Homo sapiens: one gene and its partner. The protein of the gene in region 1 purifies or fractionates together with the protein of each later gene. This does not show direct contact. Each region holds a gene or a part of one and is shown in the gene's direction. Other genes may lie near its edges.

Region 1 (4,085 bases):
CCCTTGCTTCAACATGGTTTTCTTCTCTAAGAGCTTTGCGTTTCTAGATGTAAGAAGCATTCTCGCCTTGGGTATTCTGTCGGAGCAACTGCCTAAAGTCTCATCCTTGGAGAAGTGAATGTATCTCTCTGGACCTTAGGTTTCCCACCTGTTCAATAAAGGAGTGACGAATGACGCCCAAACTCTGATCTACCGTAAAAACAGTGCAGGTCTGTGAGCCCCATTGCCTTTGATTTTTCCACTCGAGTGTCCAGCACAAAGATAGTAAAAGGTTAAGGATCTCTCCAATGGCGAGTTGTTAACACGGAGGTCGAGGCTCACAGGCATCAGGTTTGCACCTTCGCCCGTCCGCAAAGATACCCCTCTCCAATATTTCTGAAGTCGGAGGCTGTGGTGGGGTATCCTGCCTTTATTCTGCTTCTCCAAAGCCCGGGCAGAAGGTCTGGGAGCAACTTTGTCTGTCTTCAGGACACCTAGCTGTCTATACCATCCCCAAACCGGAGTAAACCAGACATCACCTAGCTCCGTTTCTCACAGTTCTGCTCCTGGTCCCTCGAGGTCCCCATTACTCCCCAACCCCAGAAATCCTTCCAGCCGCACCAGGCGCACTTTGTACCCCTTACCCGCGGCTCTGCGAGCTTGGCGCTGCGGCAGAGTAGGGCACTCTCCCAGGGCGTCCTGGGCTCCAGCCTCACCTCCCCGCCCCAGCCTTTTCCGTTCGCAGCTCCCCACGCCCCGCCCCAGGACTCTGCAATCGCCTTCCCCTCCTAAACTCTCTGGGCGCTCTCCAGGCGGGCGCACTCTTTCTTGCAGCCACCCAGGGAGAACCTTTTCTTCCCCTCATCCCCAATCTCCCCAGCCAAAGCGAGAGCCAGTCAGTTGGCAGGGCGCTTGGCACAGTGGAGCCTCTCGGACCGGCCTTCTGCTGGGCGGGGGTGGGAGGAGGCACCCGGCCTCTCGGGGCTCTGGGGCACCGGCTGGCCAGGCGTGCTCAGCTCGGCCAGGCATCCGCCCGGCGGGATCGGATCTGGAGGGCAGCCTCGCACTGAACCCATCACCCAAGCGCCCGAGCCGCCGCCTCCCTCCCGCAGGCGCCCCACGCGCTCACCCCAAGCCCGGCCAAGCGGGAGAGTCCAAGGCGCGACTGAAGCCCCCCGCCGCGTGCCGGAGCTCGAGCTGCCCCGCAGGCTCTTTGCCGGCCCCCTCCGAGGAGGGGCGCGCGGGGGGCCGGGAGAGGCACCTCCGGTCCGCCCACCCTCCCCCTTCCCTGCCCGCCCACCCGGCCAGAGCTGCGCGGCACGGCGCAGCGCTCGGATTCCGGGAGGGAAGCGCCGCGCTGTGTCCCTGGCGTCCTCAGTCCTGCCCCGCGAAGTGGAGATGCGCGAGAGGCAGGCGAGGGCGCGCAGCTCGTGAAAAGCCGCGCCAGCCGGCACCATGCGCCTGCGGCCGCTGCCCCTCGTGGTGGTCCCTGGCTTGCTGCAGCTGGTGAGTGCCCGGCCCGCGCGCCGTCCCACACGCCGGGGACGCGTTTCGGCGGGAAAACCGCGCAGGCGGCTGACTTGGAGCCCAGCCTGGGCCTGCTTGGGAAGTGGGGTTGGGGGCGCGCGGAGGGCAAGGAGTTTTGGGTTGCCTTAGAGGTCGAAAGGGAAGAATTGAAGAACGGAATAGACGGGATCTACAGGCGACTCAGGGGCTTAGCACGGGTTGGGACTTGAGCGCTGGGGTAAAGTAGGCAGAAGGTGGCCGGGAAGTAGGTCCGGGAGAAGGAAGCGGTTTATTGATAAGCGGTCAAGGAGAGGAAGGAAAGTAAATTGATAGGATGAGAAGGGGCAGAAAGACCTTCCTCCTGTTCACAGTTTGAGAGGCTTGGTGGTGTTTATTTTTCACGTGGTGTTTTGCCCAGATGCACACAGACACTTCTCCCAAAGCACAGCATAGTGCATGCATCCTCGTTCTCAGAGCCAGGTAGTGGCGCCTTGCTGGGAGAAAACTTAGGCAAAATACGGATTTGGGGGACAGCTTGGATTTCTCTTCGTTTTCCGTCTGGCGCTAGGGACTGGGATGGGGCTTTCTGCCAGCTGGGGACACAAGATATAACTTTCATGCCCAGCTCCGCGCAGGAGCCCCCTCTCGGGCATCTCGAAGCTGTCTTTTCAGGGAGACCGCCCGCCTGGTCTGGGTGGCTCGGAGGCGCTGAGGAATAAGAAACGTATTAAAATGTGGTTTGGGGTTCGCGTTGTCACTCTCTTCTCTCTTCCCGCGAGGCGCCACGCTCTCCTCCTCCTGATATACGCCTATGTTCTATATGCATGGCTAATTATAGTTGAGGGAAAACCAAAGTAAGATCTTCAAGAAGAAACTTTTAAAGTAAAATTACAGAAGGGGAGTGCTTTGGCTGGGTCAGCATCTGTGATGGATTTCTTCTGGTCACTTAGCTCTTGCCTTGTTAGGGTGCTATTAAGAGGGCTTTCTCCTGATGCCATAGTTTCTTTGGTCCTCATACTTAAGACTTTGCCCAAGCACTTAGAAGATGACAGTCTCTTCTCTCTCGCTCGCTCTCTCTCTCGTTCTCTTTGTCTCTTTCTTTTCCTATTAGGGGGAAAATCAAGTAACTTTGAAAGTTTATGATATGTATGATATTGTTAAGGCAGAGGCACTTTGCAAGTTCTGAGGGTGGAAGGAACTCTAAAAGGTGGAGAGACCTCTGAGATGCCCGTGGTCCATGCTTGTTACGGTGGAGATTAGCTTCACCTGCACAGCGTTAACTCAGAAACTCTTCAATGGCATCAAGAAGAAAATGCAATGATATGCCCAAATATCCTTGAATGAGCCATCACATACTGGCTATCTACAATACTCCATGTTAAAATACATTTTACATCTTAGGCATTATGAATCCAAAATATATGCCACATTAATCTTTAGTATCCCTTGCTTTAAAATTTTTTAGTCTGGATTCTAATAAAAGGTGATCTAACAAAGCAGCATTTGTATGGTGTGTGTAAGGAAAAGCCTGGGGAAATCAGGTGTTTATGTGGGGTCTTCAGAATATCTTCACGAATCTTAGTTCATTAATTTTGCATTTAATAAATATGAACTGTGTATCTGCTCCGTAAGCAGTGTGATAGGCTCTTAAAGATGAGAAAATATATTTGGGCACGTGTCGGGGAAAAGTTCTTCTCCCAGCTACTATATTGGAAATGTTAGATATTTTTTTTTTCCACACCGCCATAGTCAGTAAGGAATAGGAAATACATCTTGAAGGGATTATATGCTCTCCTTAAGAGCTAGATTCTAATATTACAGCATGGACTGATGGATTTGCTTTTAAAAAAGCTTATGTCAAATTCTAATCCATTTTGGGATTGTGCTTGGGTTGTAATGTTTTTCTCCTGGAGCACTTTATCATGGTAAGTGAGGTAGGGAGCTGCAGCCCTGTTGATAAGCACACATTCCTTACGCTGCCATCCCTTCGGACAATAAAAGGCTGTTTACATTCTCCACATTCTTAGAGCTGTTGCCAGCCTTATAACACAAGGGGGTTAGAATGTGAAAGGAAAACAGAGTGGCTGAGCATATCTAAATTGAAATATTCCCCAATCCCAGCATATGCCCTACTCCAGTAGGTGTCAAAAAGGACAGATCATGATTTGCTCATTTGGATGGCTCATAGTTTTGTTCTACCTTTTTCAGCTGATATTGAACTTCTTTGTTAAATCCTAACAGCAAGGGGATAAAATATTTTCTAGATATGAAACTAGTCATTTACTTTTCTAGGAACCATATGTACTAAAAAAATCTGCCCTTTGCTGACATAAGGCTTTTTTTTTTTTTTTTTTTTTTTAATTTTTTGGTGAGGGAGGAGTGAAGTTACCTTATTGTCGAAATTGGATTTTACTTTTCTATCTGCACTGCCAGCCTGAAGAACATACTTATAAAAAATATTAAATATTTTAAAAGAATAATAGATTCATTTGGGCATATTGAACATTTAGTGATATGAAAATTACCTGTTTGTTTCTGAAAGCAGTCACAGGGAATTGAGCCCAAATAAGTCACTAACTATGGTTATATATAACATATAT
Region 2 (3,500 bases), on another chromosome or scaffold:
CCCCAATCAAGTGTTTTACTTTGGAAATGACAGGAGATCCTTATTAAAAGTCATGCTTCTTGGATAGAGATGTGGCAGCTTGCATGTATATGATGGCACAGAAGACAAGCTGCCTTTCGTTAAAAGCAATAGAGGAAATCAATTTTGGCAGAAAATACTCCAGACTGTGAAGTAAAGACTGAAGGAAAGAACTGAAGAGCATCTCACTTATAGCTGATTGGAGATTCAGTCAATCTATTTAATAAATGATTATAATCTCTTATGAGCTGTAGGTAGTTTAGGTACACAAGTTAAAAAGTAAGAAGACTTGTTTGAGCATGAATATAGAATTACAAGCTGTTTATAATGCATCTCAAACAACAGGAAAACAAGTGCAATGAATTTCAAACTAAAAACACAAATTAATCCCTGAAAAGCAGCCACCTGTATAAGTCACTGTGTAAGTGAAATGACATATTGTGTGAGACATAAATGTGGAGAGATGATTGGAGACAATTCAGGGTCATTTCTGCAGGGAATAACAACCACATTCATAAAGATTTTTTTATATTTTAGAAGCTAAATTCCTGATTATTTTCCCATGTCCTTGCTATTCACTATCATAAGAAAAGAGGAGCAATTTGAATTTGTTGAAGCAGTGAAAAAAAAAAAAGGAAATATTTTGAGTAAAATGCAGACCTGATCTTACACTTTGCATTTCTATCCTTTTTTCCCCCTGTTCAAAGCATTTAGGTCAGGTTAAAAAAAAAAAAAAAAGAAAAGAAAAAAGGATCCCAAAATAGGAAATATTCTCAAAGAACTTGCAGTTTGTTCATTTAAACCAACTAGATTACAAAAACCACTAATAAAATTTGTCAATAATTTGATTATTATAATGCATCTAAGATACGTATTTGAGAAACAGACAATTTAGGGTAAAAAAATGAGTGGGAAAGTACTTTTTTCTTTTGATGAAAAAATTAAGAGAATCTGCTCACTTGTAAGTCAAATGGCAGCATCGGCAACTGGAATAAATAATTAACCTTACATTTTACCTACAGGAAAGGGTCAGCTAATTCTAGATTTCCGGTGTAGAACACTAGAATTTCCTTGTTAACGCTTAGTCAAGGGCATAAAAATCCCAGGACGCTGTTTCAATAATCGATGGGCCGACAAATGTCAATACTTCAGTTACCCATCATTGAAGGAAAAAATGACAAACATTAGTGGCGAGCCTTCATTTAGGAGATTTAGCCAAGTAAAACGTCTAAAATATCCTATACAAATGTTAAACTACAGGGGATGGGGTGTGGAAGCAAAAGCAGAAAGTGTACATATCTTGGGAATAATTTAAATAACTTCCTCTTCTATTTTAAACGAATCTACTAGGATTGTGCATATGCACATCTCACTGATTCCACTGGTTGCAAATATATTTTCAGAGGTCAAATTCGTCAGTCTTTAAGTCCCAAGCCTTGTAATAAAATGATACCATGTGATAACAACTGGAATGCAGTCATATTATGTTCTTTTGTTTGGCAATAAAAAACAATAAAACATTTTAAATAAAACCCTTCAGGTTATTGCCTCAGAATCTGTTGAAGTAGAACAGGCTTTTCTCTCTCCCATTCTCTCTTTCTCAAACAAAGTCTGTAAAAACATGTTTAATATTTAGAAAATACATAACCATTCTCCAAAGACAGACACATGCTTTCAATTATACATACAGGTAATTATTAACTGTCATCTTTAATCTTGTTTCCTAAGAATTCTTTGTACATGATTTAGCCTTTTAGAAGTAAAAGTCATTTCCCATTCCATTGGACAGCACCATTAATTAGAGTACAGGCTAGTTCATCCAAAGTTTAGTAACTTACCCGTATTCACCCAGTACATTACATTTCAGATAAGATGGCCTGTGTATTTTGATGTGAACACATCAGCACATATTAGGTCATTTGGCATGGTAGGAGGGGGGTGAGGGGATGTGGGCTAGGGTGGGCAGGTGCGTGATATTGCTAGTATGCTTATACCTGTAACTACTGGTTCCTTGCTTTTTAGTTTTTACCACATAATGTGCTGTCAATTTAGGTTCTACTTATGAGTCACCCCATGTCTTAGAATGTATTTTAAATATAAGGTTTTGCATATTTGCATTCTATGAATAATGTATAAGCAGGAAGAAATCCAATTGGCAAAAGCACACCACTTCTGGGATAATTTATAAATCCAGAAAATTGTCTATTTGGATTTAATAATTTTTCTTATGGATGTGGAAAATATTAGCACCCATACAAATTTACCTATGTATTTAGAGCTTCTAACTGAGACCATCCTCATGTCCCTGTCCTGTAACAAACACACATATATCTGTTTCATCTACACACTTAAATGTATCATTTTGTCTACTTTCCTGTTCTATAATATTGGATGTCCTTGCAAAACCTTATCTTTGATGCACATGGGATTAAAAACTGTCCTATGGAATGATGAGCTAGAGGGTGTTGGGAAATGAGAAATAAGATGGTAAGGAATATATTTATATATTTCCTCTAATTTCATATAGATCAGGGGAGCCTGTTGAGGAGTGTCAAATACTAATGGCTTATTCTCCTTGGATTTCAGATTCAAGGCCTCTTCCAGATGTAGCCCTGACTGGGAAGTGCACTCGTGAGTGTGATGAGTATGGCCACTCAGACTCCTGCTGGATGCCGGTCCGCACTTCTCCGGAGAGGAAGAAGAGCCAGCCTAAACTGTCCACTTTCATGCCTGTTGATGAACGAGGAAGCCAGGAAAAGCTGGCCAATGGGGAGGCCGCCATCATGGGTGACCGCAACAGAAACCTCCTGAACAAAAAGTTGACCTCATCCTATGAGACCTTCAGTGCAGCTAGTTTCAGCAAAAATGAGGAAGCCAACCCTGAGGATATTCCCCTTACAAAAACAGGGGAATATAAGCCATCTCCTGTCAATACTCTCACTAGAAGAGAAGTTTACCTGTAGGCTATAAAGGAGCAACAGCAAAGTTCTTTACATGTATGAAAAGGAGAATAAGGGGCAAAAACCTTACAAAGCAAAACGTTTAATCACAAAGAGGGGGCTACCAAAGAGACAAAGCTTTGCCTGCCACTTCTGCCTCCAGATCAGGCCTTTAGTGATACTGTTAGCCTGATTCTACTGTACAATGTAGAAACCATCCTTGTTACTTGCATGTCTAACCCCTTCACTGATTCCCAACACTCACTTTCTCTTCCCCACCCCTCTCCAAAAAAAAAAAAACAAAAAGAAAAGAAAAAAAAAGGGGGATAGTTGCAAGTTTCTTTCACAGTAACTGTACGAAGCCTGATTAGCAGAACACAACACACCCTCATTATCCCTAAGCTGAAGCATGATTTTAGTCACTTTGATTTTGTTCGAGTGTCATCTGGCTGGTCAAAAATAAGCAGGACAGATAAAATGTATTTCAGACATACCATCAGAAAATGGTTTATCACCATCAAAGGCAATCCTTTGAAAGTGATA

What was found.
Region 2: the proteins of NXPH2 (region 1) and PCDH7 purify together in Homo sapiens (affinity purification with mass spectrometry; 3 studies listed by BioGRID and IntAct, with this or other methods). This does not show direct contact.

The regions. Positions count from the first base shown.
Region 1 is NC_000002.12:138,777,591-138,781,675, reverse strand, and holds the start of NXPH2 (neurexophilin-2 precursor), read left to right. Parts: upstream 1-1,285; 5' UTR 1,286-1,434; coding exon 1,435-1,485; intron 1,486-4,085. UniProt on the Homo sapiens protein: May be signaling molecules that resemble neuropeptides and that act by binding to alpha-neurexins and possibly other receptors.
Region 2 is NC_000004.12:31,139,869-31,143,368, forward strand, and holds part of PCDH7 (protocadherin-7 isoform d precursor), read left to right. Parts: intron 1-2,604; coding exon 2,605-2,981; 3' UTR 2,982-3,500.